3 separate regions of the Homo sapiens genome follow, and regions 1 and 3 are each linked to region 2. The links come from fine-mapping of genetic effects on gene expression. A gene starts in region 2. Each other region holds a variant in brackets. All regions are shown on one strand. Distances are between the middles of the regions.

The links. PIP is the estimated chance that this variant, and not a neighbour inherited with it, causes the effect. A credible set is the group of variants that fine-mapping cannot tell apart.
Region 1: its variant is the best candidate, but not a certain one, in a credible set for the expression of PIERCE2 in skeletal muscle (GTEx, PIP 0.51).
Region 3: its variant is the best candidate, but not a certain one, in a credible set for the expression of PIERCE2 in whole blood (INTERVAL, PIP 0.59).

Annotation. Positions count from the first base shown.
Region 1 is chr15:55,465,925-55,476,418 of GRCh38, forward strand. DNAAF4 (dynein axonemal assembly factor 4) reads right to left here. Exons shown (of 10, transcript NM_130810.4): 5 at 1,006-1,237. DNAAF4-CCPG1 (DNAAF4-CCPG1 readthrough (NMD candidate)) reads right to left here. Exons shown (of 16, transcript NR_037923.1): 4 at 1,006-1,237. Among named protein-coding and RNA genes, the nearest start is that of DNAAF4-CCPG1, 27 kb to the right of the region's middle. RefSeq lists an enhancer at 10,145-10,224. The variant T/C (reference allele first, on the strand shown) is at 1,956.
Region 2 is chr15:55,403,120-55,413,613 of GRCh38, forward strand. It overlaps PIERCE2 (piercer of microtubule wall 2), which reads left to right and starts at 5,376. Exons shown (of 2, transcript NM_001198784.2): 1 at 5,376-5,667. The coding sequence starts at 5,650. It overlaps CCPG1 (cell cycle progression 1), which reads right to left and starts at 5,240. Exons shown (of 9, transcript NM_001204450.2): 1 at 5,102-5,240. The region is part of intron 8 of DNAAF4-CCPG1 (DNAAF4-CCPG1 readthrough (NMD candidate)); the gene reads right to left. RefSeq lists enhancers at 432-726, 4,460-4,739, 5,100-5,369, 5,420-5,619.
Region 3 is chr15:55,453,309-55,463,802 of GRCh38, forward strand. The region is part of intron 5 of DNAAF4 (dynein axonemal assembly factor 4); the gene reads right to left. All of the region lies in intron 4 of DNAAF4-CCPG1 (DNAAF4-CCPG1 readthrough (NMD candidate)), which reads right to left. Among named protein-coding and RNA genes, the nearest start is that of DNAAF4-CCPG1, 40 kb to the right of the region's middle. The variant A/AT (reference allele first, on the strand shown) is at 6,879.

The DNA of each region.
Region 1 (10,494 bases), 63 kb after region 2:
TGGGCCTGGGGACTAGGGGGGAAGGGTGCAGGGGTGAGGGATAAAAGACTACACATTGGGTGCAGTGTACACTGCTTGGTTGATGGGTCCACCAAAATCTCAGAAATCACCACTAAAGAACTTATACATGTAACCAAACACCACCTGTTTCCCCAAAACTACTGAAATAATAATTTTAAAAACACACACATACAAAAACTGAATTATATTTGTATCAGCTGGACATGGTGGCTCATGCACACAATCTCAGCACTTTGGGAGGCCAAGGCAGGCAGATTGCTTGAGCTCACGAGTTCAAGACCAGCCTGGGCAACATGGCAAAACCTCGTCTCTACAAAAAATACAAAAAAGCATTAGCTGGACATTGAGGCACATGCCTGTAGTCCCAGCTACTTGGGAGGCTAAGGCAGGATGGCTTGAGCTGGGGAGGCAGAGGCTGCAGTGAGCTCAGATCACACCATTGCACTCCAGCCTGGGCGATAGGGCCAGACCTTGTCTCAAAAAAAAAAATTATATTAATTTATCTGTTTTTGAATACACCAAGATTAAAAGCTAGAAGCAATCTTTATTTGCTGTAGAGTAAGTCTGCTTATAGTACTCATTTTCCTAAGTGATGTGAGGAAAAGGTCTTTTAATGAAATTCCTAGTTTCTTATCTCTAATGGAATAAATGAATGCTTCTGACATTGCTAGTCCACTCCAAGTCTTTTTGGGCCTGAGTTAAGCACTTATTTAACAACATCTTTGTAAATTTCAAAAGAAAGCACACAAGCAAAGAAGACACTCTTCTTTTCGAATCCTTGAACGAATCCTTGCTCATTTTATTAGAAAACTTCATTATCCCCGAAAGAAGAAATGTCTTTACTTTAGTCTTTGTACTGAATTGCTTATTCTCAATGTGCCAAAACAGTAACCTAATGCTGTGAATAGATTTACAAAAAAAGAAAAGCGTCATATATACTTCACCAACAGGACTCACTACTCAAGAAATTCTTAATCATTTTACCTTTTGGAGCAAGATTTCTAGATGCCAAATTTCTAGTAAGACTCTTATATTTTATTTTTTTTCTTTCTTCTTTAATTTGCTTTTCTTTTTGACATAATTTCTCTTCTCTCTGAATTTTTTTTTGCTCCTCAGCTTTTCTTTGATATTCTTTCCAGGCTTCCAATGCTTTAGTGGCTTTTATCCGTTCATTTTCTTTCATATCTTCTATTTTTTTCCTCTCTTCTTCTTCAATCTATAACAATTGCAATTACCAAATTCTTTAAAATACATAAAAGCAACATTTATTTAAATGAGAAATTCATTACAATAATTAGTTATTCATACCTCTAAACTCTTGCCATTGTATTTGTAACAATAGGTAGTAGTGAATTATGAATTAAAATGGGAAAGGTAAATGATTCAGGAGAAAAACCATTGGTGTTGGAGTCATGGAACAAAGATTTTAGTCCCAGATCTACCATTAGCTGTATGGTCTTAGGCAATCACTTTCTCCAACCTCAGTTTACTTATATGTAAAATGTGGGCAGGCATTCAATTAGATGATACCTAAGGGCTTGGTAGAAAAAATAATAGAAATTTATTATTCTAGGAGTTAAGCCACTTCTCTCAAAATCTACACACACACACACACACACACACATCCCAACACATATATTCAAACATTTGCTTTTCAACTTATCCCAAGTCTTACCCTGTCAACCGAAGTTGTGCCAACCCTTCAGTCCTAAGGACTGAAGGAAGAGGGAACAGTAGAAAAGGAAATAGGAAGGATGAACAAGACGGTCTGTCTCTGCTGGGTGGAAATATTTGAAGTCTTAATCCTGCTGCAAAACCTATGTTTGCACTAGTAGTTGTCTGACACTTTCAAAGAGCTAAATATCAGATGAATTTGAAAGCAGTATCTTGTACAGGTGTGTGGCAACTTTTCTGCCTTTCAAACTTCCCTCACA[T/C]GGGCAAGAAAAAAAACCTTGTGAAACAGAGTACCTAGTTGGTGTACATGATTGACTCCATGTATCTGACTTTCCTATGGTAAGAAAAATTTCTTACCTCTATCCACTAGAGAAGCACTTACTTCAATGATCAAAATGTCTGTGCTATCCAATATAGTAGCCACTAGCCACAGGTGGCTAATTAAGTACTTCAAATGTGGCTACTGAGACTCAGGAACTGAATTTTTAATGTTATTTAAGTTTCATTAATGTACATTTAAATTAATTTACATTTAAATAGGACATCTGAAGTGGTTCTAGACTATGGATATGCTAGGATGAAGGTCCCTAAATGTTGTATTACTTTAAAATAGAGATTTAACATTACGAGTATGAAACCTGTGCACTGAAAGGTGCTCTGTAATATCTACATGACATAATACTCTCTTCTAGAAGACTGATTATTTTCCTGTGAGATGCTGACTTTAAAATAAATTTCACGGGACACTGAATGAAAATTTCCTGTAGTCCCAATTTTACCTCAGGCTTAAATTAAGCACAAAATATGCTAATTATTACTATATATTCTTAGTTCAGAGAGTTGCCAGTAAGCTGCCAACAGATTGAACCAGGAAGAATCTACACATGGCAATGAAACAAAATTTAAATGCCTCACAATAAGGCATGATGAACACTCCATGTTAGAGAGGAAGCCACAACCTAAAAGACGACTTCACCCAGCCTAATTATATGTCTGCCTTTTTTCACTCTCTGCCCCAACACATGAAAAAGGGAGAATATGTGGAGAGTCAGACACCCTCACCCATCATACTCCCTGCAAGAAGAATGAATTTTACATGAAGTTTTTAAAATGCATAAGACTAAGTCTTAATTACCAAAAATGAGACTGTTCTTACAACAAAAAATAACAGGAAAGTTCTGGTATTATAGCCAAGATGTAGTTAAGGGAACTATAGGTATAATGATAATTTATAATAAGCTATATTAGAGACAGAAATAGTCCAGCTCTTCAGAGAGTAGTGATGAAGAGGAGAAACCAAGAAAGGCTTCACAGAGTAGGTAACAGAAGGAACTACAATGAAGAGAAAAACATGAAGAAGAAAATAACACAAAGCTTATGATAAAGAGAAAAGAGACTACATGTACCAAAGAAAAACAGAGTGTACAGTGACCGGGCGCGGTGGCTCACGCCTGAAATCCCAGCACTTTGGGAGGCTGAGGCAGGTGGATCATCTGAGGTCAGGAGTTCGAGACCAGCCTGGCCAACATGGTGAAACCCTGTCTCTACTAAAAAATACAAAATTTAGCCGGGCTTGGTGGCAGGCCCTTAATCCCAGCTACTTGGGAGGCAGAGGGAGGAGAATCATTTGAACCTGGGAGGTGGAGGTTGCAGTGAGCCGAGATAAAGCCATTGCACTCAAACCTGGGGGACAAGAGCGAGGCTCCTCTCAAAAAAAAAAGAAAGAAAGAAAGAAAAAGAAAAACAGAGTGTACAGAGAAAAAACAAACTGTTTATGCCTCTTATATACTCTCACAACACTCCATAGGTCACTTCCATCACGAAACTTGTGGGTTTCTCCTATGCTTACCAATTCTTTTTTTTTTTTTTTTTTTTTTTTTTGAGACGGAGTCTCACTCTGTCGCCCAGGCTGGAGTGCAGTGGCGCAATCTCGGCTCACTGCAAGCTCCGCCTCCTGGGTTCATGCCATTCTCCTGCCTCAGCCTCCCGAGTAGCTGGAACTACAGGTGTCTGCCACCACACCTGGCTAATTTATTTTTTTTTTATATTTTTAGTAGAGACGGGGTTTCACTGTGTTAGCCAGGATGGTCTCGATCTCCTGACCTCGTGATCCGCCCACCTTGACCTCCCAAAGTGCTGGGATTACAGGCGTGAGCCACTGCGCCCGGCCTATGCTTACCAATTCTCTAACATCAGCTATGTGTCCTCTAATTCAGTTCTGTCATTATCTACCCGGAGTTAGCATTAGATCCCACAGGTTAAGGGCTCAATTCCATAAGACAGTCTCCACACAGATGCCAATCATAAGTCCAGGACTCCCATATTTCTAACCAATCAGCTATAAGTTGGGGGTTTCTACAACCCCCTCCTCAGGTTTGACCATTTGCTTCAATGGCTCACAGGAATCAGATAAATACCTCGCTTATATTTACCCCTTTTTTTTTTTTTCTGAGACGGAGTCTCACTCCGTTGCCCAGGCTGGAGTGCAGTGGCACGATCTCGGCTCACTGCAACCTCCGCCTCCCAGGTTCAAGTGATTGTCCTGCCTCAGCCTCCTGAGTAGCTGGGTCTACAGGCACATACCACCACGCCTGGCTAATTTTTGTATTTTTAGTAGAGACAGGGTTTCACCATGTTGGCCAGGCTGATCTTGAACTCCTGACCTCAGGTGATCCACCCGCCTAGGCCTCCCAAAGTGCTGGGATTACAGGCGTGAGCCACCGCGCCCAGCCATATTTACCCATTTTTAATAAAAAGATGCAAATCAGGAAGAGGCAAATGAAAGAGATGTCTAGGGAAAGATACCGGGGAAGGAGCACAGAGTTTCCATGCCTTCTCCCTCCAAGTGTTCAGCAACCCAGAAGTTCTCCAAACCTCATAGTTACAGGAATTTTATGGAGGTTTTATCTAGCAGGCATGACTGGGTTTTTTTTTTTTTTTTAGACAGGGTCTTGCTCTGTCACCCAGGCTGGAGTGCAATGGCGCAATCATGGCTCACTGCAGCCTCAACCTCCTGGGCTCCAACGATCCTCCAGTTCAGCCTTCTAGGTAGCTGGGACACAGGCACATGCCACCAAGCCTGACTAATTTTTTATGTTATTTTTTTGTAAAGATGGGGTTTTCCCTTGCTGCCCAGGCTGGTCTTGAACTCCTGGGCTCAAGTGATCTACCCACCTCAGCCTCCCAAAGTGCTGGGATTTACAGACATGAGCTACTATGCCTGGCGGATTTTTTTTTTTTTTTTTTTTTTGAGACAAGGTCTTGTTCTGTCACTCAGGCTGGAGAGTGCAGTGGCACAACCTTAGCTCACTGTAGCTTCCACTTCCTAGGCTCATGTGATCCTCTCACCTCAGCCTCTCAAGTAGTTGGGACCACAGGCCCGCAGCACCACGAATGGCTAATTTTGTTGTTGTTGTTTTTAGAGTCAGGGTCTCACTATCTATGTTGCCCAGGCTGGTCTTGAGCTCCTGGGCTCAAGCGATCCTCCCACCTCGGCCTCCCAAAGTGCTGGAATTACAGGCGTAAGCCAGTGGACCCAGCATGATTGATTATTAAGTCAGTCTCCAGCCCCTATCAAAATGATGGGGAGGGGTGCTGCAAGTTCCAGACAACTAGTCATAGCTTGGTCTTTCTGGTGGCCAGCCACCACCCAAGAGCCCATCAAGAGTTGCCTCATTAGAACAAAAGATTTTCCTATTACATAGGAAATTCCAAGGGATTAGGAGCTCTGTGTCAGGAACCTGGGTCAAAATCCAAATAATTTAACAAAAGATGAACCTAGCACCCCATCACTCAGAAAATTACATGGGTTTTAGGAGCTCTATGCTAATAACAAGAGGCAGGGACCAAATATATATTTTTTATGATGTCATAAAGAGATGGACAAATGTTAAACTTTTTTTTTTTTTTTCTCAGATGGAGTCTCACTCTGTCGCCCAGGCTGGAGTGCAGCGGCACGATCTCGGGTCACTGCAAGCTCCACCTCCCGGGTTCATGCCATTCTCCTGCCTCAGCCTCCCGAGTAGCTGGGACTACAGGCACCCACTACCACGCCCGGCTAATTTTTTGTATTTTTAGTAGAGATGGGGTTTCACTGTGTTAGCCAGGATGGTCTCGATCTCCTGACCTCGTGATCTGCCCGCCTCGGCCTCCCAAAGTGCTGGGATTACAGGCGTGAGCCACCACGCCCAGCCAACAATTCTTAAAGATATTTTGTTATTTATTTACTTACTTATTTTGAGATGGAGTCTTGCTGTGTCACCCAGGCTGGAGTGCAGTAGCACGATCTTCGCTCACTGCAACCTCCGCCTCTCGGGTTCAAGCAATTATCCTGCCTCAGCCTCCTGAGTAGCTGGGATTACAGGTGTGTACCACCATGCCCGTCTAATTTTTGTATTTTTAGTAGAGACAGGGTTTCATCATGTTGGCCAGGCTGGTGTCAAACTCCTGACTTCAAATGATCCACCCGCCTCAACCTCCCAAAGTGCAGGGATTACAGGCGTGAGCCACCGTGCCCAGCTCTTAAAGATATTTTAAATAAAAATCATCTAATATAGGAAACACACAATTTAACACAGACACCGACAAATATTAAACAATCCTTGAAGGTCTTTCAAAGAAAAATCATCTAATACAGGGAAGACACACGGAGGAATATGCAGTAACAGAAAAACTCAGAAGGCTAAAATAATAATCATCGTACATAAAGGACTGGAGGCCCGGGGGCAGTGGCTCATGCCTGAAATCCCAGCACTTTGGGAGGCCCAGGCAGGTTGATCACTTGAGGTCAGGAGTTCAAGAACAACCTGGCCAACATGGTGAAACCCCATCTATACTAATAATACAAAAATTAGGTGGGTGTGGTAGCATACACCTGTAATCCCAGCTACTTGGGAGGCTGAGGCAGGAGAATCACTTGAATCTCGGAGGCAGAGGTTACAGTGAGCCAAGATCGCCCCACTGCACTCTAGCCTGGGTGACACAGTGAGACTTCTCAAAAAAAATAAAATAAACAAATTGGGTTTTAGGTGTTTGTACTGTTCAAAAAAGGATGCCATTTACTACAGGTTATTAGTTTAATGCAGACAGCAAATAAAACTAATACGAGAATAATGAATAGTTCCTACACTAAATTTTTGAAGAAGAGGAAATGTATAATTCTTTTAATCTAGAATGAATGTCTGGTCAACAAGGCATTGTTCTTTATAAGCCAATCCCACTTGTGAATTACATGCAAAAATTGTAAATAAAACATTAGCAAACTCAGCCCGGCATGGAGGCTCACGCCTGTAAACCCAACACTTTGGGAAGCCGAGTCAGGCAAATTACTTGAAGTCAGGAGTTAGAGACCAGCCTGGCCAAAATGGTGATAACCCATCTCTACTAAAAATACAAAAATTAGCTAGGTGTGGTAGCGCACACCTGTAATCCCAGCTATTCGGGAGGCTGAGGCATGAGAATCGCTTAAACCCAAGAGGCAGAGGTTGCAGTGAGCCGAGACTGCGCCACTGCATTCCAGCCTGGGTAACAGAGTGAGAGGCCACCTCAAAACAAACAAAAAAAAAACCTAAAAAAAAAAAATATATATATATATATATATATATGTGTGTGTGTATATATATATATGTGTGTGTATATATATGTGTATATATGTGTATATATATGTGTATATATATGTGTATATATATGTGTGTATATATGTGTGTATATATATGTGTGTATATATATGTGTGTATATATATGTGTGTGTGTATATATATATATATGCAAACTTAACCTAGAAAAATATTAAAATTATAATACACCTTAATCAAATAGGGGTAACTTAACCTAGGAAAATATTAAAATTATAATACACCTTAATCAAATAGGGGTAACTTAACCTAGGAAAATATTAAAATTATAATACACCTTGATCAAATAGGGTCTTTCTTACTTAAGGTATTAGGAAATCAATAGAGAAAAGCATTATGATGTCAGTGTATGCCAAAATGTCAGTTGATATTGGGAATAAAAATAAGAAATAAAAATTTATAAGCTGGATAGAAGGACCAAGACTATGTTATACTTCATGACGAAATATTAGAAATAGCCGGGCGCAGTGGCTCACACCTGTAATCCCAGCACTTTGGGAGGCCGAGGGAGGTGGATCACCTGAGGTCAGGAGTTCGAGACCAGCCTGGCCAACATGGCAAAACCCCTATCTCTACAAAAAATAAAAAAATTAGCTGGGCGTGGTGGCACACAACTGTAGTCCCAGCTACTCGGGAAGCTGAGGCAGGAGAATCTCTTGAACCTGGGAGGTGGAGGTTGCAGTGAGCCTAGATCACGCCACTACACTCCAGCCTGGGTCACAGAGCAAGACTCCGTCTCAAAAAAATAAAAATAAAAAATAAAAGAAATATTAGAAATATTTCCAGCAAAATCACTAAGGCAAGTATACCTAATGTTTTACTATTTTCCTAGAGGTCAGAACCTAAATGATAAACTTTTAAAAATAAGAAATACAAATATAGATTACAAGGAGATAGAATTGCATCATTTGCAAATAATAGTACACTACTTAAAATAACCAAAATAATAAACTGACAAACCAAAAGTAAGTTCAGCAAGGCAGTCACATATAAAATCAACTAGCTGGGCGCGATGGCTCACGCCTATAATCTCAACACTTTGGGAGGCCGAGGTGGGCAGATCATGAGGTAAGGAGTTCAAGATCAGCCTGGCCAACATGTTGAAACCTTGTCTCTACTAAAAATATAAAAATTAGCCAGGCGTGGTGGTGCATGCCTGTAGTCCCAGCTACTCAGGAGGCTGAGGCAGAAGAATCGCGTGAACCCAGAAGACGGAGGTTGCAGTGAGCCAAGATTATGCCACTGCACTCCAGCCTGGGCGACAGCGTGAGGCTCCATCTCAAAAGAAAAAAAAAGATCAACTTATACAAACTTATAAAAACAAACTTACTTTCCTACAAACTGGCAATAAATAATTAGAAACTACAATGGAAACGTTAATTTCATCAGCAATCACCAGAAAAACATAAATGAATAAGCTTAGCAAAATATAAGCAAGTCATAAGGCCAGGGGCGGTGGCTCATGCCTGTAATCCTAGCACTTTGGGAGGTTGAGGTGGGCGGATTACCTGAGGTTGGGAGTTCAAGACCAGCCTGGCCAACATGGTGAAACCTCGTCTCTACTAAAAATACAAAAAGTTAGCCAGGTGCAGTGGCGCACGCCGTAATCCCAGCTACTCTGGAGGCTGAGGAAGGAGAATCACTTGAACCTGGGAAGTGGAGGTTGCAGTGAGCCAAGATCGCGCCACTGCACGCCAGCCTGGGATACAGAGACAGACTTCGTCTCAAACACAAAACAAACAAACAAAAAATATATAAGCAAGTCATATATGTGTGTTAAATAATTTTGCTGAGAGATGTAAAGTATATCCAAATAAATGGAGATAAATGCCATGTTCCTGGAGGGAAATCTCAATATTATAAGTATGTTGATGCGCTGCAAATTTACAAAGTCAATGTAAATTCAATCAAAATACCAAGAGGACTTCTTAGGAAACTTGATAAGTAAATATAAAATTCATCTGCAAAGACAACATGCAGATTTTGTGGCAACATGAAGAGGTTGGCAATTCCCCTCCACAAATATTAAGGATAAAACTGGATAAAATTATCAAAAACAACCATTTCAGGGGACTGGAAATTAACCAAAAGAAGACTACAAAGAGAAAAGTCTTTAGTCTAGAAAAGCTGCTAAAGTTCTAAGTATGAAAGGTAAGAAGCTGTGCCCTTTGGCCTGAGGTTGCTCCTAAAACCCCCTCCCAGCTAGGATGATGAGCCTGGCAATTTTACTGGCTGAATATCCCTTGTCCAAAATGCTTGGAACTAGAAGTGTTTCAGATTTTGGATTTTTTTCAGATTTTGGAATACTTGCAGAATACACACTGGCTGAGCATCCTTACTCCAAAAATCTGAAATCCAAAATGCTCCAGTGAACACTTCCTTTGAGCATTGTGTTGGTGCTCAAAAGTTACAGATTTTGGAGCATTTCAGATTTTGTATTTTTTGATCATAAATGCTCAACCCATACCAACATGAAACTACCAAAAAGAACCTAGCAGTTTGTTGCTAAAAAGGGTGGGCTCATTTCCGGGTAGGGCAGTGAAAACCTGTAGCTTTGGTGGATAAAAGTGCTAGGCTTGGTTGGGAATAAAGAGGAAAACTTTGCAGTTGGTCTGAGGTTGAGATCCTGGTTAGGATAAGTGCTTAAGCAGTCAGAAATTTAATGGAAAGATTATGTAAATGAGAGAGCTACGGATGCATGGTGACCCTATCACCTTTTAAGGCTCTCATGAAACAATGGATAGAAGACAATGAAATGACATGTTCAAAGTACCGACAGAAAAAAACAGAACTATAAACCACAAATTCTATATTTAGCAAAACTATTCTTCACAAGTGAAAGCAAAATACCTTCCAAGACAAATGAAAACTGAGGGAGTATGTTGCTAATAGACCTGCTCTATAAGATACACTTTTTTAAAAAAGGGCAGGGCATGGGGAGGTGGCTCGCACCTGCAATCCCAGGTGTGATTTGGGATGCCAAGCCAGGAGGATCGCTTGAAGCCAGGAGTTCAAGACCATCCTGAGTAACACAGAGTATCCCCATCTTTACTAGATAGGCATGGTGGCATGTGCGTGTAGTCCCAGCTACTCAGGAGGCTGGGGCAGGAAGACTGCTTGAGACCAGGAGTTTGAAGTTACAGTGAGCTATGAATGTACCACTGCA
Region 2 (10,494 bases):
AGTACAATAATACTTCATATGAGTAGATAACTCCACCACTTACAAAGCAATTTCATTTTCATATCTGATTTAATCTTCACAAATACCCCCATAAAGGCAGCTTGCTATTATTTACAAATTCCAAATGAAAACGAACAGAAAATTATAAATAATAACTTCCTCAACATCATTAAAAATCCTCTGATTTCCAACCTAATGCTCTTTTTACATTTCAACATGCTGGCAATATGAACCAGAAGTAAGATTTTGTAAGATTTTAAAAGAATAGTGATTTGGATAAGTACTTAAAAAAAAAAAAAGATTTCAGGCTTCCTGTGATGACAGAAAAAAATACTTAACTCCCACTTCTTATTTTCTAATACTTCCTCAGGTAATTCTATAGACCCTTAAAGAGGTTTCCACACATTAAATACCCTTTGGGGGAAAAAATCCCTTTATTTATCACTTAATTACAATCCTTCCCATATCATAGGGCTGAATTTCATCTTAGAACTCAAATTGAGAGAAAATATGGCCAAGTTTATCTGATGCAATACATTGCAAATGACCTTTGAAACCAAGTGTTTTAGTCTAGTTACAATTATGGAACTGTCAGGAAGGAAATTTGTGAAAATGTAATCCTTTATCACTTACAATACTGCAACTTCCTCATCTTCACCACAAAGAAACACAAACATAATTCAGCCTCCAGCAGTTCTGCACTGTTAGATGAGTCTGCATTTTTTGTTTAAAGTACCTTGGACTTAACAGGCCTTGCTGCTGTGTTCATGTTCTTAACATGTTCAAAAACTACTACTTCCATGATTTTAGCAGTTCATATGCACCTAATTTTTAAAAGTCTTTCTTTAACTTGCATAAGAATATAATTATACAACCCATACAATAATACTGTGGAATGAGTTAGTAAATCAGACATGTTAATCAATTATGAATTTTTCTTATGCCCTGTGAATAGACCCAAAGCCTAATAACATATTGAGCCAACTCAGTACACAGAATATACAAAATTATAAGGTAAAAAATATTGAAAAGAAATTGACATTTGGAGTAGGCAAGCTCCAAAGAAGACAACCTAAGAAAATAAAGTATGAACACCACAACCTGAAAAACAACGTGTTACCAGTGTTTTTTGTAAAACACTTTAGAATAGATATTTTATCCAGTGTTAATGGACACTTGGTGTTAAGGTAAACCCCCTTAATTTTTAAGGGCTGATAGTAGCCAAAAAAAAGAAAAATGTACTGTATATTACTGTGGAAGAACAATGTAGCCCTTTACAACAGAAAGCAAAATGTGGGCTAATGATTGATTATACTACTTACCAGTCCATATCCAACATAACCATAACAAAAAATAAAAACAAAAATAGACATAAGCCAAAATATCAGACATATAAAACATGGTTCTGAACGTGATTCAATGTTGACAAGTTTAAGATTTTCCAGGCTTAAGTGAAGAAAAGCTAAGTACTTTCACCTCTGATTTAACTGTACAAAGTGAAAAGAAACCAGATCAAAAGATGGGATGTACAGGCCAGACATGGAGCTCTCATGCCTGTATCCAGCACTCTGGGAGGCTAAGGCAGGAAAATCGCTTGAACCCAGGAGTTCAAAGAGACCAGCCTGGGAAACATAGCGAGACCCTGCCTCTACATAAAATTTTAAAATTAGGGCCAGGTGCGGTGGCTCACGCCTGTAATGCCAGCACTTCGGGAGGCCCAGGCAACCGGATCACGCATTCAGGAGATCGAGACCATCCTGGCCATTATGGTGAAACCCCATCTCTACTAAAAATACAAAAATTAGCCGGGCATGGTGGTGTGTGCCTGTAATCCCAGCTACGTGCCTGTAATCCCAGCACTTTGGGAGGCCAAGGCGGACAGATCACTTGAGGCCAGGAGTTCATGACCAGCCCGGCTAACATGGCAAAACCCAGTCTCTACTAAAAATACAAAAATTAGGTCAGGGGCAGTGGGTCACGTCTGTAATCCCAGCACTTTAGAAGGCTGAGGCAGGCGGACCACCTGAGGTCGGGAGTTTGAGACCAGCCTGACCAACATGGAAAAAACTCTGTCTCTACTAAAAAATGCAAAATTAGCCGGGCATGGTGGCACATGCCTGTAATCCCAGCTACTCGGGAGGGTGAGGCGGGAGAACCACTTGAAACCAGGAGGCGGAGGTTGTGGTGAGCTGAGATCTTGCCATAGCACTCCAGTCTAGGCAACAAGAGCGAAACTCCGTCTCAAAAAAAAATTTAGTGGGGCATGGTGTCACATGTCTGTGACATGTGACAGCTACTGGGAGGCTGAGGCAGGAGAATCACACTTGAACTCAGCTTGAATCACACTGTAATCCCAGCTACTAGGAAGCAGAGGTTGCAGTGAGCCGAGACTGAACCACCATACAATAGAGCAAGACTCTGTCTCAAAAAAAGTAATAGCCAGGCCTAGGCCTGGTGACATGTGCCTGTAGCCCCAGCTATGTGGGAGGCTGTGTTGGGATCACTTGAGCCCAGGAGGCTGCAGTAAGTCGTGTCCAGGCCACTGCACTCCAGACTAGGTGACAGAGCAAGACATCATCTCCAAAAAATAAAATGAGATCTACAAATGCTACAAATTGTCGGATCTGTTATTTTCTTCGAGTCCAACTATTTCATTTATTGTCCCTACTCTCCAAATAATTTACACTTAAATTCATATAGTCTACAGATGCAGCAACAGGGACTTTGCCTGTGTTTTTTACTGTTGTTGCTTATTTGGTGTTTTTGAGACAGTCTCACTCTGTCACCCAGGCTAGAGTACAGTGGCATGATCTCGGCTCACTGCAACTTCTGCCTCCCGGGTTCAAGCGATTCTCCTGCCTCAGCCTCCTGAATAGCTGAGATAACAGGCATCCGCCACCATGCCCAGCTAATTTTTGTATTTTTAGTAGAGACGGGGTTTTGCCACGTTGGCCAGGCTGGCCTTGAAGTCCTGACCTCAAGTGATCCGCCTGCCTTGGCTTCCCAAAGTCCTGGGATTACAGGCATGAGCCACTGCTCTAGGCCTTTATTTTCTTTTTAAAGTAATGTTCATAGAGTCCATAACTGGAATTGCTGCTTTTTTTTTTTTTTTGCATAAGGGTGGGGCTTTCCACTAGAAAGTGAAAAAAATGATATAGAAACTCTCAAAGTGCTGTTAATACTTGCATCCTTTTTTAAAAGTTTTTTCTACAGAAAACTTGAAAAATACAGGAAAGTACAAGAAAAATCATTTCTAGTTTCACTATCTACACTTTTATAACTGTGAATATCCTTTATTTCTTTTCTTTCTTTTTCTCTTTTTTTTTTTTTGTTTTTTTTTTTTTGTTTTTTTGAGATAATCTCACTCTGTCACCCAGGTTGGAGTGCGGTGGCCAGATCTTGTGGCTCACTGCAACCTCCGCCTCCCGGGTTCAAGTAATTCTCCTGCTTCAGCCTCCCAAGTAGCTGGGTTTACAGGCTAATTTTTGTATTTTTAGTAGAGACGGGGTTTCACCGTGTCGGCCAGGCTGGTCTCGAACTCCTGACCTCAGGTGATCCACCTGCATGGGCCTCCCAAAGTGCTGGGATTACAAGCCTGAGCCACCGCTCTGGACCCTTTAAGTCATTTCTAAAAGAAGTTATGTTCACTTTTTGTTCCATGGTTTACAAAATTGCAATTACACTATTTTCTAAACTGTTTTCATCTAAGAAGGAGTATTTCCCACACCTTTAAATTGTATTTGGGCTGATTTTTAATCAGCTTTTTTGACTGAAATTCCGCCCTCAGCGTAAAAGGTTAAAAATTATGAATTAACGCCCGCGCGGTGGGTCACGCCTGTAATCCCAGCACTCTGGGAGGCCGAAGTGGGCGGATCACGAGGTCAGGAGTCCAAGACCAGCCTGGCCGACACGTTGAGACCCCCCCCCCCGCCCCGCCGTCTCTACTAAAAATACAAAATTTAGCTGGGCGTGGTGGCGGGCGCCTGTAATCCCAGATACTCGGGAGGCTGAGGCAGGAGAATCGTTTGAAACTGGAAGGCAGAGGTTGCAGTGAGCCGAGATCGCGCCACTGCACTCCAGCCTGGGCAACAAGAGCGAAACCCTCTCTCAAAAAAAAAAAAAATATGAATTAAAATAATACCCTCACCATCTCCATCTTCTGCTATATGACCTGAACTCAGAAAATAAAAGTAAACCATTCACACTGGATGTGTGTGATAAATATCCCCTGAGACGTGTGGGACCCAATATGATTCTAATCTTAAAAGATACGATGCAGTAATAGCGATATTTCAAGCACTATCCTGTAGATTGGAGGAGACAAATCTAAAATTCATAGTACTATATAGTTAGCTATTCTAACTACAAGAATGCCCAACTGTGTTTTTCAATAAAAGTAGAGCAGAACAGTGCAAACTTCACCACTCAATAAAATACCTTACTTGGCGCTCCCAATAGTGCTAAACATAAACAACGCGTACAAGGCACTGCATGGGACAGCTGCTAATGAGGACAAATCGATTAGGGAGACCAAAGCTAAAGGAGGCCACTGGAACTGGAGAAGGATATGGAGAGGTATTTGATCATCATCAGGCTGGCGTGCTAGCGGAAGTCTCCGGGCATTATTTAATATTTAATCTTTCTATTCCTGACATCACGGGGGCTCAAATGTCATCAAAAGACAGGCTGGCATTAAACCCGGCAGGGTGACGCACATAACATCTTACCATATGGATTTTCATCAGTCCAGACCGACAAGCACCTCAAAGCCTGCCCAGTGAAGGAAGAAGGGTGGCCCAGGCCGTCAGCTCTCCCACCCTTGGCGCGCAGTTCGGTATAGCACTCGGGGTTTGGAGGCTGCAAGACCACCGGACCGGACGCCCCAGGGTCGGCTCGGGCCTCCGGAGCTGTGCACTCGCGCACGGCCCGAGGAGGTCGCCCGTGCGGCCGCTGACACCAGGCGTCAAGTCCCCGCCCGAGCAGCCCCAGCCTAGGAGGCGGACCCCGCCACTGCTCCTCTACTGAGCCGAGCGTGTCGGCCAGGGACTCAGACAGTCGGCACAAACCCCCTCCCGGGGTCTAAGCCCGCCTAGTACAGTACCTGAAGGGGCAGCGCCACCTCCGCCCGATTGTGCTGGCTGCCCCAGTGGCGGCGGTCACAGCTCGGGCGCCAATGACGCCTCTTATAAAAACAACCTGCTCGCAGGCGTCTGCAGCCGGCAGGCGGTGACCGGCTGGGCGCCGCAGTGCATGCCGTGACGCGTAGTCCCGCCTGCGCCTCCTGCCCGGCAGCGGTGAAGAGAAGAACTACCACTCCCGAAGTGGAGCGCAGGCCGCCGCCGGGCGGCTGCGGGAAGCTGGGCCAGGCGGCCGCAGATCCCCACAACATCCGGGAGCCGGCGACCACTTCCAGTTGCTATGGTTACGAGTTGCAACCTCCAGAAAGAATTCGTGGTTTCACCCGGGAAAACAGCTCCCCGGATTAAACGGATAGGTTTACACATACTGATCCACCCAGCTATTCATCTTCTGTTTGCTGCTTTAATTGGGTGCGGTTAAAAGGCCACGTCCCTAGGCGTTCACCGGCTTTCTTGCCATCTGCTGCATGAAAACTGACTTTGCCGAAAAAATTAACAAAGAAGAGCGAAAATGACAGACCGCAACCGGGTGAGTTTAGGCAGAGGGCTAGATGTTTGGGAATGTTGGTATTCGCTAGTATAATTTGAGGCACCACCTACTCCTACCACCCCCAACCCCACAACCCCGAAAAGCACTTTACAAGGCAACTACTGAGCTTTTACATTTACACTTGTAAATGCACGTTTCCTTAAGTCCGAATAGCCTCTGAAGGTGTAAAGACCATCGAGATTGTATGCATTCATACCCTACTGTTGCAAACTGTTCAGTGATGGTTTTGAACAAGAAAAACGTACTTTGTTAATTGTATACTTATTTAAATTGCACTGTGTCAAAGAAGGGAGTTGTTTTGAAAAAGGATTTGGTGGCCGGGCGCCGGGGCTCAACGCCTGTAATCCCAGCAATTTGGGAGGCCGAAGCGGGTGGATCACCTGAGGTCAGGAGTTCGAGACCAGCCTGACCTACATGGTGAAACTCCGTCTCTACTAAATACAAAAAATTAGCCAGGAGAGGTGGCGCGGGCCTGTAATCCCAGCTACTTGGGAGGCTGAGACAGCAGAATTGCTTGAACCTGGGAGGCAGAGGTTGCAGTGAGCCGAGATTGCGCCACTGAACTGCAGCCTGGGCAACAAGAGCAAAACTCCGTCTCAAAAAAAAAAAATCTTACATTTATATTCACTCTTTACAGAAGCAATAAAAAGTTTAGGTTTCATTCTCTGTCCCCTAATTGTGGTAAAAGTAAATAAATAAATGGAAAAATTAATAATAAACGTAAACATTAGCAAGGAAGACGGTGGACCTGAGCAGAGACAAAAGAGTGCCTCAAAATTAGACCTTTTTTATTTTTTATTTTTGCTTTTCTATTAACTATATTCAACATCAACAGTGACATCAAAAAATCTTAATTTTATAATTACAGCTTCTGCGATGGGCATTATTAATCAATGGCTTGTTTTCATTTATCTTTTTAAATGTATATGTATCTATACCAAAGGACTTCGAAAGGTCAAAGTGGTCTGGCTTTCTCTAACTGAAAATTAAATTACTAAGAAAGCTAATACCAGCTACTGGTAGATTTTTATACCTTTCAAGCCACTTTCACAGGCCAATTTTAAGATGTAATTTCTTCTGAAAAATCATTTACAATTTTAATTAACCTTTTTATCATTTAATAAAAGTTGATGACATGTGGCAGATAATTTGAACTCATCCTTTTATTATTCTTTGTATTGGCTATTTGTTTCGTTCTTAACTATAGTCAGTTTGAACTCCACATTTTAAGAATATCAGGTTTGAAGAAGGTGAAACCCATATTAGAAAACTGCAGTGGTTGTCTATGATGTAAAGTATAAAGCAATGGACCTTTTGTTTCTGAATCTATAAACATTTGTGAATTATCCTGGAAATCTAAAAAATTTTTAATTTAAGATTTAGCTTTTCCAGATTTTATGGTACTAATTATGCCAACAAAGTTTATCAGCTAATTTGTCTTCTGTTTTTACTAGATTTCGTTTTCTGCATTATGTTTTGAGCCAAAGCTGAACGAAATTCTAGAACCAGTAGTAAAGAGGGTCATTTGATAACAAGAAGAGTTCTCAGCTGGGCGCGGTGGCTCATGCCTATAATTCCAGCATTTAAGGCCCAGTACTCTGGGAGGCCGAGGCAGGCGAATCGCCTGAGTTCAAGAGTTCGAGACCAGCCTGACCAACATGGAGAAACACTATCTCTACTAAAAACACAAAATTAGCCGGGCGTGGTGACGCATGCCTATAATCCCAGCTACTCGGGTGGCTGAGGCAAGAGAATCGCTTGAATCCGGGAGGCGGAGGTTGCAGTGAGCCAAGATCACGCCACTGCACTCCAGCCTAGGCAACAAGAGCAAAACTCCATCTCAAAAAATAAAAAAATAAAAAAGAGTTCTCAGTGACTGAAGGAGATAGTATTAACAACAACAACAACAAAATCTACAAGTTGCCCTGGGCAACCTGCTTAGGTGCCCATAAAAGTAAATTACAGTGGTACTTTTCTGCGCAAGTCACAGGGCCTCCACCTTCCACCTATAAAGCTTTCCCCTGTGCTGAGGAAACCTAGAAAATTTAAGAAAAGCTGATCAGTTGAGATACCATCAAAATTTTAAAATTCTTATGATTTACTATTATCCAGTATCTGTGTTGTTAATATTTAAAGCAAATTAATAAGCAGTTTCAAAAAGAATAAACAGCAAGATCTGATGAGAATAACATTGATGACACTCAGTGAACCTGAGTTCTATTTCCAGCTTTGCCAACTACAAACTTATGAGTATTAAGTGAATATTAGCAAACCATATTATGCTAATACAAGGTCATTAACCTGTAGGTTTCAGAACTGTTTCTGGAAGATCATACATTGAGGTAAACCTGCAAAAAAGAAAATAATAAAATTTGGTGAGGCATGGTGGCTCACGACTGTAGTCCCAGCACTTTGGAAAGCTGAGGTAGGCGGATCATCAGAGGTCAGGAGTTTGGGAACAGCCTGGCCAACATGGTGAAACCCCATTTCTACTAAAAACACAAAAATTAGCCAGGTGTGTTGGCAGGCACCTGTAGTCCCAGCTACTCTGGAAGCTGAGGCAGGGGAATCACTTGAACCTGGGACGCAGAGGTTACAATGAGCTGCGACTGCGCCACTGCACTCCAGCTTAGGTGACAGAGCAAAACTCCATCTCAAAAAATAAAATAAAATAGTGATAAAAATTGATTCCATTTGGCCAGGCGCAGTGGCTCACACCTGTAATCCCAACACTTTGGGAAGCCGAGGCAGGTGGATCACTTGAGGTCAGGAGTCCAAAACCAGCCTGGCCATCATGGTGAAACCCCATCTCTACTAAAAATACAAAAATTAGGCTAGGCACGGTGGCTCACGCTTGTAATTCCAGCACTTTGGGAGGCCGAGGCGGGCGGATCACCTGAGGTTGGGAGTTCGAGACCAACCTGACTAACATGGAGAAACCCCATCTCTACTAAAAATACACAATTAGCCAGGCATGGTGGTGCATGCCTGTAATCACAGCTACTCGGGAGTCTGAGGCAGGAGAATGGCTTGAACCCAGAAGGCGGAGGTTGCGGTGAGCTGAGATTGCACCATTGCCCTCCAGCCTGGGCAACAAGAGCAAAACTCCTTCTCACAAAAAAAAATAAATAAATTTAGCTGAGCGTGGTGGCGCACGCCTTTAAGCCCAGCGATTTGGGAGGCTAAGGCAGGAGAATTGCTTGAACCCAGGAGGCAGAGGTTGCAGTGAGCCAAGATCACACCATTGCACTCCAGACTGGGCAACAGAGTGAGACTTTGTCTCCACAAAAAAAAAAAAAAAAAAAAAAAAATTGATCCCATTCATATAGTGATTCACCATTTACATCAAATTTTCTTTCATTTAATCTCCACAACCATAGGAACTATGGCAGATTTTTATTTACCAGTTTTACAGATAATATACAAATAAAGGTGAAATGATAAAGTATGAGAACCTAGGTCATAGTTGCTGCCTTGTGCTACTCTTCCAATATATCACATCCAGCCCTCTTTCGCTTATGATTCTCATTAAAATAAAGCAAAACATGAAAACATAGTATACTACACTGTGATTCTGCCTCAAGTTTATAAGGTTAATAAATTCTGTGGAGTTGGTAGAAGAGATCTGAGAGGTCAAATAATCCAGGCTCCACTGTTTTACAAACAAATTTTAGGCACAGAGAATCTAAGTGACTTGTCCAAGTTTAAATTGCTTTATATTTGATTCATATTTTCAGTCCCCTTATTCATGGAAAAATACTTTCAAAAACTTTAGTAGGGACACTATTCAGGTAGAACATTAATAATTGACTGAAAGCTGGACACTGTGGCATGTACCTGAAGTCCCACCTTGAGAAGCCAAGGCCTGAGGATCACTTCAGCCCAGGAGTTCCAGGTTGCAGTGCACTATTATCCCATTTGTGAACAGCCAGTGCACTCCAGCCTGGGCAACAAAGTGAGATCTCTGTCTCAAAAAAAAGAAAAAGTTGATGAAGAGTAGATTGAATATGGTTTTATAGTACTTTTAAGTTAAAAGCTGGGGATTGATATGGTAGCTTATGCCTGTAATCCCAGTGCTGTGGGAAGCCAAGGCAGGAGGATTGCTTGAGACCAGGAGTTCAAGACCAGCCTGGGCAACATAGCAAGACCTCATCCCTACAAAAAAATTATAAAAATTAAGGCTGGGCGCGGTGGTGCGCACCTATAATCCCAGCACTTTGGGAGGCCAAGGCGGGCGGATCACGAGGTCAGGAGATCGAGACCATCCTGGCTAACACGGTGAAACCCCATCTCTACTAAAAATACAAAAAATTAGCCGGGCACGGTGGCTGGCGCCTGTAGTTCCAGCTACTCGGGAGGCTGAGGCAGGAGAATGGCGTAAACCCAGGAGGTGGAGCTTGCAGTGAGCCAAGATCGCGCCACTGCACTCCGGCCTGGGCAAAAGAGTGAGACTCCGTCTCAAAAAAAAAAAAAAATTATAAAAATTAGCTGGGTATGGTGGTGTGCATGTAGTCCTAGCTACTTGGGAGGGTCACTGGAATCCAGGAGTTTGAGGCTGCAGTGAACTACGATCACTACTGCACTCTAGCCTGAGTGACAGAGAAAAACTTTCTCCCTTCTCCACACCAAAACAGTTAATTAAAAGCTGCCCTTTAAGAATGTTTTTAAGGGCCGGCCGTGGTGTCTCACGCCTGTAATCCCAGCACTTTGGGAGGCCAAGGCAGGCAGATCACTTGAGGTCGGGAGTTTGAGACCAGCCTGACCAACATGGAGAAACCCTGTCTCTACTAAAAATACAAAATTAGC
Region 3 (10,494 bases), 50 kb after region 2:
ATTAGTGGTCAGGCAAAAAAGCACAATTCACAAGAGGAAACAATCCAGTATGAGGAACAATCAGCAGACACAACAAATAAGACGACTGGCTCCCCAAGACTTTGAAATAGCACAACAATCTGAAAGAGATTGATCATTTTAAACATACTTACTTAAAGCCAGTAAAGACAGGCTAACATCAATAATGAAAACTAAGAAGCTAGTGACAAAGAACAGAGAGGTGTGAAAAAAAAACAGTTCTTTTTTTTTTTTTTTTTTTTGAGACAGCATCTTGCTCTGTCGCCTAGGCTGGAGTGTAGTGGCGCGATCTCGGCTCACTGCAAGCTCTGCCTCCCGGGTTCACGCCATTCTCCTGCCTCAGCCTCCTGAGTAGCTGGGACTACAGGCACCCACCACCACGTCCAGCTAATTTTTTGTACTTTTAGTAGAGACGGGGTTTCACCGGGTTAGCCAGGATGGTCTCCATCTCCTGACCTCGTGATCCACCCACCTCGGCCCCCCAAAGTGCTGGGATTACAGGCATGAGCCACAGCGCCTGGCCAAAAAACAGAACTTTCAAAATGAAAAATATTGTCACTGAAATTAAAAACATCTTGGACAAGTATAACATAAAATTAGTCATGGTTGAAGAAAATTTATAAACTAGAAGATAGATCTGAGGATATTATACAGAAAATAGCTGAGGAAGATAAAGAGAATACAAGAAAGTTGGCCAGGTATGGTGGCTCACGCCTGTAATCCCAGGATTTTGGGAGGCCAAGACAGGTAGATCGCTTGAGGTCAGGAATTCAAGATCAGCGTGGCCAATATGGTGAAACCCCGTGTCTTCTAAAAATACAAAAATTAGCTTGGTGTGGTGGTGCACATCTGTAGTCCCAGCTACTAAGGAGGCTGAGGCAGGGGAATTGCTTGAACCCAGGAGGTGGAGGTTGCAGTGAGCTGAGATCGTGCCACTGCACTCCAGCATGGACAACAGAGCAAGACTCTGTCTCAAAAAAAAAGAAAAACATCTGTGTAATTTGAAAATATATATTGAAAACAAGAGAATACAATAATGTAATATTTGTTTGTTTTTGTTTTTGTTTTTGAGACAGAGTCTCACTCTGTTACCCAGGCTAGAGTGCAGTGGCACGATCTTGGCTCACTGCAGCCTCTGCCTCCCGGGTTCAAGCAATTCCCATGCCTCAGTATCCCAAGTAGCTGGGATTACAGCTATGTGCCACCACAGCCAGCTAATTTTTGTATTTTTAGTAGAGATGGGGTTTCACCATGTTAGCCAGGCAAGTCTCGAACTCCTGGTCTCAAGTAATTCGCCCAACTCAGCCTCCCAAAGTGCTGAGATTACAGGCATGAGCCAAGAAGGTAAATTACCAGCCAAGAAGGTAATATTTGAAGACAATAGTTTTGAAATTCCCAGAATTGATGAATGACAAAGTTCTCTGAGTGACAGTATGCTCCAAGTTATGATATTATGAGATAAATAAATATAAAATTGAACTTATACTAATGAACCCATAATATACCAAGGGAAAGAATTTTAAAACAACCAGAAACAAAGGATAGATTACTTTATTAAGCATCAAGCTAGATCCATTATACTTCATCCTGGGTGACAGGGTGAGATCCTGTCTCAAAAAAAAGAACAATATTAGAAATTAATAAATTATATAATTATAGATAAAGTACAGATAAGTAAATAAAAACTTTATGAAAATGAATTTGAATAGATAAAATGCACAATTTAGAAGACAAACTACCAAAATTGACTTTGGAAAATTTCAATAATCAATAACTATTATAGAAACTGAATCTTTTTTTTTTTTTAAAAAAACCTCCATAAAAAAACTCCAGACCTAGACAGTTTTAGGGGAAGTTTTACTAAGCCTTAAAACAACAGGTATTTCTCTTATCTAACTATATTGTTTCAAATAGTAGAAAAAGAAAAACGCTCTATAGTATATAGGTCTGGTACAATTTGGTATACAATCTAGACAAGAACAGTATGAGGAAAGAAAAATATAACTGAACCTCAATATGAAGATAAATGTGACAACTGCTTATAAAATATTAGCAAATTGAATATATATATATATATATATATATATTCAATCTAAATGACTTTTTTTTGTTTTTGTTGTTTTGAGACAGGGTCTCACTCTGTCACCCACACTGGAATGCAGTGGCGCGATCTTGGCTCACTGCAGCCTCTTCCTCCTGGGTTCAAGTGATTCTCCTGCCTCAGCCTCCTGAGTAACTGGGACTACAGGCGCATGCCACCACACCTGGCTAATTTTTGCATTTTTAGTAGAGACAGGGTTTCGCCATGTTGCCCAGGGTGGTCTGGAACTCCTAACCTCAGGTGATCTGCCCACCTCGGCCTCCCAAAGTACTGGGATTATAGGCGTTAGCCACCATGCCCAGGCTCTAAATGACTTTTCAATATGCCAAGCCTCACTGTTAAAGTTGTAAAGACATATGACCTGGTGGAAATAGCACAGGTTTCAGATGCAGACCAGATCTGGGTTCAAATCCCACAAGTTTACTTATTCATAGTTATTTTTTTTTTCTGAACATCTATTTCCTCTAAAATAAGAATAGCAGCACTTAGACTGAAGTGTTGTGAAGACTGAGTGACCCAAGCAATAAAATCCCCTGGCACATAGTAGTCACCTAATAAATGTTAATTATTATTATTATATATGTGATTTTACACTAAAATGTTAAATTTATAGGAATTCAATAATGACTTATGTAAGGAAAATACTAAATATTTCTTTTTTTTTTTTTTGAGATGGAGTTTCACTCTTGTTGCCCAGGCTGGAGTGCAATGGCAAGATCTCGCTTCACTGCAACCTCCACCTCCCTGGGTTCAAGCGATTCTCCTGCCTCAGTGCCTCCCGAGTAGCTGGGATTACAGGCACCCACCACCACGTCCGGCTAGTTTTGTATTTTTAGTAGAGACAGGGTTTCTCCATGTTGGTCAGGCTAGTCTTGAACACCCGACTTCAGGTGATCTGCCCGCCTCAGCCTCTCAAAGTTCTGGGATTACAGGCGTGAGCCACTGCATCCGGCGGAAAATGCATCCAAAACAAAGTTTAATATTCTAAAATTAGATAAAACCAAACTCGTAGCTTTCAGTATAGAATTATATTCATTGGGAGATAGGAGGGAAAATGGCAGATCGGAGACAGGATTAACATGCAGCTGCCACCTGGATGGACAGAACAGCATCTGGAGACTCACAATGCGAACTTTTACTCCAAGAATCACTTCAGGAACACCGCAAGAAACACTGTAGGAAAACTGAAAGAATTCACAGACCCTTTGAAAGAAGTGGTTCGCTGCTGCAAATGCCATGAAACAGCTGAAAAACCGTGAGTTCCCAAAGTGTGAGGGAAGAAAAGGTCAGTCTCTGAACATACATCCCCACTGGGGAACCTGAAAATCCAGATCACAGGGGAAGGATTTAACTTTACCCTGAGCTGAAATAGATTTAGGTAGCTGAGCAAAATATGAAAGTAGAAGAAGCAGCAGGAAGAGCCCTATAGGTACTTCCATCCCCAGCTGGAGTCCAAGGAAGCCATTCCTGGCGTGATCTCACAGAGGTCCTTGGAGACGGGAAGGCAGCCAGTGGAATTGGGGCAGGACCACAGGGTGAAGGAAGCTTGTAGCTGAACTTTGTAATAATTTTGACTGAGCAGGAATTTTCCTAAGCAGAAATTGGTGGCAGAGGGGGCAAATGGGAAGTACAGATGCGAGTGCAGAAGCCACAGCCAATAGTGTGGGCAGGCAGGGACTGGTGAGGCCTAACAGCCCTCTTGCTTTCTCAGTGGCAAGGCTTATAGTCTGGGGCAAGATCTCAGCCCTGCTCACCAACTGCCTGGATATAAACGCAGTGCGGTTGGGGTGGCATGGCCAGAGTGAGACTGGCCTTGGTGGCTGCCTGGGAGCTAGGTGAGGCCTGTCACTGCCAGCTTTCCCCCACCTCCCTGGTGACCTGTATAGCACAGCAGAGGCAGCCATAATGCCCCTGGGAACATAATTCCATTGGCCTGAGAATCCCCTCCACCCCCACTGTGGCCACAGCAAGCCCCACCCAAGGGGAGCCTGAGCCCAGACCCAACTAACCTTGCCCCCACCTGATGGGGCAAGGTTTTCTCTACCTGCTCTATGGCCCTGCCCATCACCTGAGAAACCCGAGTACTTGTCCCGGCCAACATCAAGATTATATCTCTCTTCTATACTGCAGCTGGTGCCCTCTTGAAAGTGCCACCTCCTGGCTGGAGCCCAACGAACTCAAGCCACCATAGCAACTCATAACAGAACAACCCTGCTCCAAAGAAGGAGAAAACAACAGCTAATTCCACTTCCTGCAACACCCTGTCTAGCCAGAGGTCCTGAATCTGTCCACGTGACAACTTCACTGCTTACATAACCAGTACTTGAAGTGCACTAAACAAAATTACAACAAAAGACTCCAACAGAATCCACTTCACTCACCTGCCACCACCAGAACAGGTGCTGGTATCCACGGCTGGGAGACCTGTGGATCACATCACAGGGCTCTTTGCAGACATTCCCCAGCACCAGCCTGGGGCCCAACTGGGTGGCTAGAAATAGAAGGGCAATAACAATCACTGCAGTCTGGCTCTCAGGAAGCCCCATCCCTAGTGGCAGGGGGAGGGCACCACATCAAGGGAACACCCATGGGACAGAAGAATCTGAACAGTAGCCCTTGAGTTCCAGATCTTACCACTGAAACAGTCTACTCAAATGAGAAGGAACCAGAAAAGTAATTCTAGTAATATGACAATACAAGGTTCTGTAACACCCCCAAAAGATCATACTAGCTCTCCAGCAATGGATCCAAACTAAGAAGAAATCTGTGAATTGCCAGATAAATAATTCAGAAGGTTGATTATTAAGCTCCTCAAGAAGGCACTAGAGGAAGGTGAAAATCAACTTAAAGAAATTTTTAAAAAAAGGAGGATATGAATGGAAAAGTCTCCAGAGAAATAGATATTATAAAGAAAAAATAATCAAAACTTCTGGAAATGAAAGACACACTTAAAGAAATGCAAAATACACTGGAAAGTTTCAACAATAGATTTGAACAAGTAGAAGAAATAACTTCAGAGATCAAAGACAAGGCTTTCAAACGAACCCAATCCAACAAAGACAAAGAAAAAAAGAATTTTAAAAAATGAACAAAGCCTCCAAGAAATCTGAGATTATGTAAACAAGCAAACATAAGAATAATTGGTGCTCCTGAGGAAGAAGGGAAATCTAAAAGTTTGGAAAACATACTTGAGGGAATAATCAAGAAAAACTTCCATGGTCTTGCTAGAGATCTAGACATCCAAATACAAGAAGCTCAAAGAACACCCGGGGAATTCATTGCAAAAAGATCATTGCCTAGGCACATAGTCATCACATTGTCTAAAGTAAAGATGAAAGAAAGAATCTTAAGAGCTGTGAGGCAAGGTCAGGCACAGTGGCCCACATCTGTAATCTCAGCACTTTGGGAGGCCAAGGCGGGTGGATCACGAGGTCAGGAGTTCGAGACCAGCCTGGCCAACCAAGATGGTGAAACACCATCTCTACTAAAAATACAAAAATCAGCCAGGCGTGGTGGCAGGTGCCTGTAATCCCAGCTACTCAGGAGGCTGAGGCAGGAGAATTGCTTGAACCCGGGAGTTGGAGGTTGCAGTGAGCCGAGATCACGCTACTGCACTCTAGCCTGGGTGACAGAGCAAGACTCTGTCTCAAAAAAAAAAAAAAAAAGAGCTGTGAGGCAAAAGCACCAGGTAATCTATAAAGGAGAACCTATCAGATTAACAGCAGATTTCTTAGCAGAAGCCCTGCAAGCCAGAAGGGATGGGGGTCCTATCTTTAGCCTCCTTAAACAAAATAATTATCCGCTAAGAGTTTTGTATCCAGTGAAACTAAGCTTCATAACCAGAGGCGAGATAAAGTCTTTTTCAAACAAACAAATGCTGAATTTGTCACTACCATGCCAGCACTACAATAAATGCTAAAAGGAGTTCTAAATATTGAAACAAAACCTCAAAATATACCAAAATAGAACCTCCTTAAAACATAAATCTCATAGGATCTATAAAACAATAACACAATGAAAAAAAATAAGGTACAGCAACAACTAGCATGATGAATAGAACAGTACCTCACATCTCAATACTGATATTGAATGTAAATGGCCTAAATGCTCCACTTAAAAGATACAGAATGTCAAATGGATAAAAATCAACCAACCAAGTAAGTCTTTTAACAGACTTGCCTAACATATAAGGACTCATAAACAGGGTGGAAAAAGATATTCCATGCAAATGAACACCAAAGTCAGCAGGAGTAGCTATTCTTTTTTCTTTCTTTCTTTCTTTCTTTTTTTTTTTGAGACAGAGTCTCCTTCTGTTGCCCAGGCTGGAGTGTAGTGGTGCAATCTTGGCTCACTGCAACCTCTGCCTCCTGGGGTCAAGCGATTCTCCTGCCTTAGCTTTCCAAGTAGCTGGGACTACAGGCACGCGCCACCACGCCTGGCTAATTTTTGTATTTTTAGTAGAGACAGAGTTTCACCATGTTGGCCTGGCTGGTCTCAAACTCCTGACCTCGTAATCTGCCCGCCTCGGCCTCCCAAAGTGCTGGGATTACAGGCGTGAGCCACTGCGCCTAGCCAGGAATAGCTATTCTTATACAAAACAAAGCAGACTTTAAAGCAACAACAGTTAAAAAAGATAAAAAAGGACATTATATAATGATAAAAGAATTAGTCCAACAGGAAAATATCACAATCCTAAATATTTATGCACCTAACACTAGAACTCTCAAATTTATTTATTTATTTATTTACTTATTTATTT[A/AT]TTTTTTTTTTTGAGACAGAGTCTCACTCTGTCGCCCAGGCTGGAGTGCCGTGGTGCAGTCTCGGCTCACTGCAACCTCCACCTCCAGATTCATGCAATTCTCCTGCCTCAGCCTCCTGAGTAGCTGGGATTACAGGTGCGTGCCAGCACGCCCGGCTAATTTTTGTGTTTTTAGTAGAGACGGGGTTTCACCATGTTGGTCAGGCTGGTCTCAAACTCCTGACCACCCGTGATCCACCCGCCTCGGCCTCCCAAAGTGCTGAGATTACAGGCATGAGCCACCGCGCCCGGCCGGAATTCTCAAATTTATAAAACAGTTATTATTAGACCTAAGAAATGAGATAGCACCACAATAATAGTGGAGGACTTCAGTACTCTACTGACAGCACTAGACAGGTAATCAAGACAGAAAGTCAACAAAGAAATAATGGATTTAAACTATATCCTAGAACAAATGGACTTAATAGATATTTACAGAATATTCTACCCAACAACTGCAGAATATGCATTCTTTTCATCAGCACATGGAACATTCATTCCAAGATAAACCAAATGATAGAACACAAAACAAGTCTCAATAATTTTTTTTTTTTTTTGAGACAGAGCCTCGCTTTGTCACCCAGGCTGGAGTGCAGTGGCGTGATCTCGACTCACCGCAACCTCCACCTCTTGGGCTCAAGTGATTCTTCTGCCTCAGCCTCCCAAGCAGCTGGGATTACAGGCCCCCGCCACCACACCAGCCTAATTTTTGTATTTTTAGTAAAGACAAGGTTTCACCATGTTGGCCAGGCTGGTCTCAAACTCCTGACCTCAGGTGATCCACCTTCCCTGGCCTCCCAAAGTGCTAGGATTACAGGCATGAGCCACTGCGCCCAGCCATCTCAATAATTTTTTTTTTTTGAGACAGAGTCTTGCACTGTTGCCCAGGCTGGAGTGCAGTGGTGCAGTCTCGGCTCACTGCAAACTCCGCCTCCTGGGTTCATGCCATTCTCCTGCCTCAGCCTCCCGAGTAGCTGGGACTACAGGTGCCCCCCACCACGCCTGGCTAATTTTTTGTACTTTTAGTAGAGATGGGGTTTCACCGTGTTAGCCACCAGATTCTGGTCTCTGGTTAGAGACCAGAATGGTCTCGATCTCCTGACCTCGTGATCCACCCACCTAGGCCTCCCAAAGTACTGAGATTACAGGTGTGAGCCACCACGCCCAGCCCATCTCAGTAAATTTAAGAAAATCAAAATTATATCAAATACTCTCTAAGACCACAGTGGAATAAAACTGGATATTGACTTCAAAAGGAACACTCAAAACTATACAAATATATGGAAATTACGTAACCTGCCCCTGAATGATCTTTGGGTCAACAATGAAATCAAGACGGAAATTTTAAAATTCTTTGAACTGAACGATAATAGTGACACAACCAGTCAAAACCTCTGGGATACAGCAAAAGCAGTGCTAAGAGGAAAGTTCATAGCACTAAACGCCTACATCAAAAAGTCTGAAAGAGCATAAACAGACAATCTAGGCTCACACATCAAGAAACTAGAGAAAAAAGAACACATCAAACCCAAACCCAGCACAAGAAAAGAAATAACAAAGATCAGAGCAGAACTAAATGAAACTGAAAGAAAAAAATACAAAAGAAAAATTAAACAAAATGCTGGTTCTTTGAAAAGACAAACAAAACTGATAGACCATTAGTAAGATTAACCCAGAAAAGAATAAGATCCAAATAAGCTCGATTAGAAATGAAATGAGAGAAATTACAACAAATACCACAGGGATACAAAAGATCATTCAAAGCTACTATGAATACCTTTGTGCACACAAACTAGAAAACCTACAGGAGATGGATAAATTCCTCAACCTAGAAGGAATTAAACAATCCTCCCAGATTAAGCCAGGAAGAAATAGAAACTCTGAAAAGACCAATAGCAGGTAGGGAGATTGAAACAGTAATTTAAAAATGGCCAACTAAAAAAAGTCCAGGACCAGATGGATTCACAGCTGGTTTTTTTTTTTTAAGACAGGGTCTTGTTCTCTTGCCCCCAGGCTGGAATGCAGTGGTGAGATCTCGGCTCATTGCAACCTCCATCTCCGGGTTTAAGCGATTCTCCTGCCTCAGCTTCCCGAGTAGATGGGATTACAGGCACATGCCACCACACCCTGCTAATTTTTGTATTTTTAGTTAGATGAGGTTTCACCACGTTGGGCAGGCTGGTCTTGAACTCCTGACCTCAGGAGATTGCCTGCCTTGGCCTCTCAAAGGCTGGGATTACAGGTATGAGCCATGTGCCCAGCCCAACAGCTGAATTCTAACAGACATTCTAAGAGAACTGGTACCAATCCTATTAAAACTATTTCAAAAGATAAGGAGGAAATCCTCCCTAAATCATTCTACAACGCCAGTACTACCCTAATACCAAAACCAGGAAAGGACATAACAAAAAAAAAAAAAAGAAAACTACAGAACAATATCCCTGATGAACACAGATGTAACACTCCTCAACCAAATACTAGCTAACCAAATGCAACAGCATATCAAAAAGGTAATACACCATAATTAAGTGGGTTTCATACCAGGGATGCAGGGCTGGTTTAACATACACACACAAAAAATCAATAAATATAATACACCACATAAACAGAAGTCAAAACAAAAATCATACAATCATCTCAATAAATGCAGAAAAAGCATTTGAGGCCGAGTGTGGTGGCTCATGCCTGTAATCCCAGCACTTCGGGAAGCCGAGGCAGACGGATCATTTGAGGTCAGGAGTTTTGAGGCCAGCCTGGCCAACATGGCGAAACCCTGTCTCTACTAAAAAATACAAAAAGTTAGCTAGGTGTGGTGGTGCACACCTGTAATCCCAGATACTGGGGAGGTTGAGGCAGGAGAACTGCTTGAATTTGGGAGGCAGAGGTTGCAGTGAGCCAAGATCATGCCACTGCACTCCAGCCTAAGGAACACAGTGAGACTCTGTCTCACACACACACACACACACACACACACACACACACACACAAAGCATTTGACAAAATCCAGCATCCCTTTATGACTAAAACCCTCAGCAAAATGGGCACAGAAGGGACATACCTTAAGGTAATAAAAGCCATCTTTGACAAACCCATGGCCAATATTATAATAAACAGTGAAAAGTTGAAAGTGTTTCCCCTGAGAACTGGAACAAGACAAGGATGTCCACTTTCACCAACACTATTTAACAGAGTACTGGAAGTCCTAGCCAGAGCGATCAGACAAGAGAAAGAAAGAAAGAGCATCTAAATCAGTAAGGAGGAAGTCAAGTTGTCATTGTTGGCCAATGATATGATCGTATACCTAGAAAATCCTAAAGATTCATCCAAAAAGCTCCTAGATCTGATATATGAATTCAAGTAAAGTTTCAGAATACAAAATCAATGCACACAAATCAGTAGCACTACTATACACCAACAAGGACCAGGCTGAGAATCACATCAAGAACTCAACCTCTTTTACAACAGCTGCAAAAAAACCCAAAAAACAAAACAAAAAACCAAAATACTTAGGAATATACCTAACTAAAGAGGTGAAAGATCTCACAAGGAAAACTACAAAACACTGCTGAAAGAAATC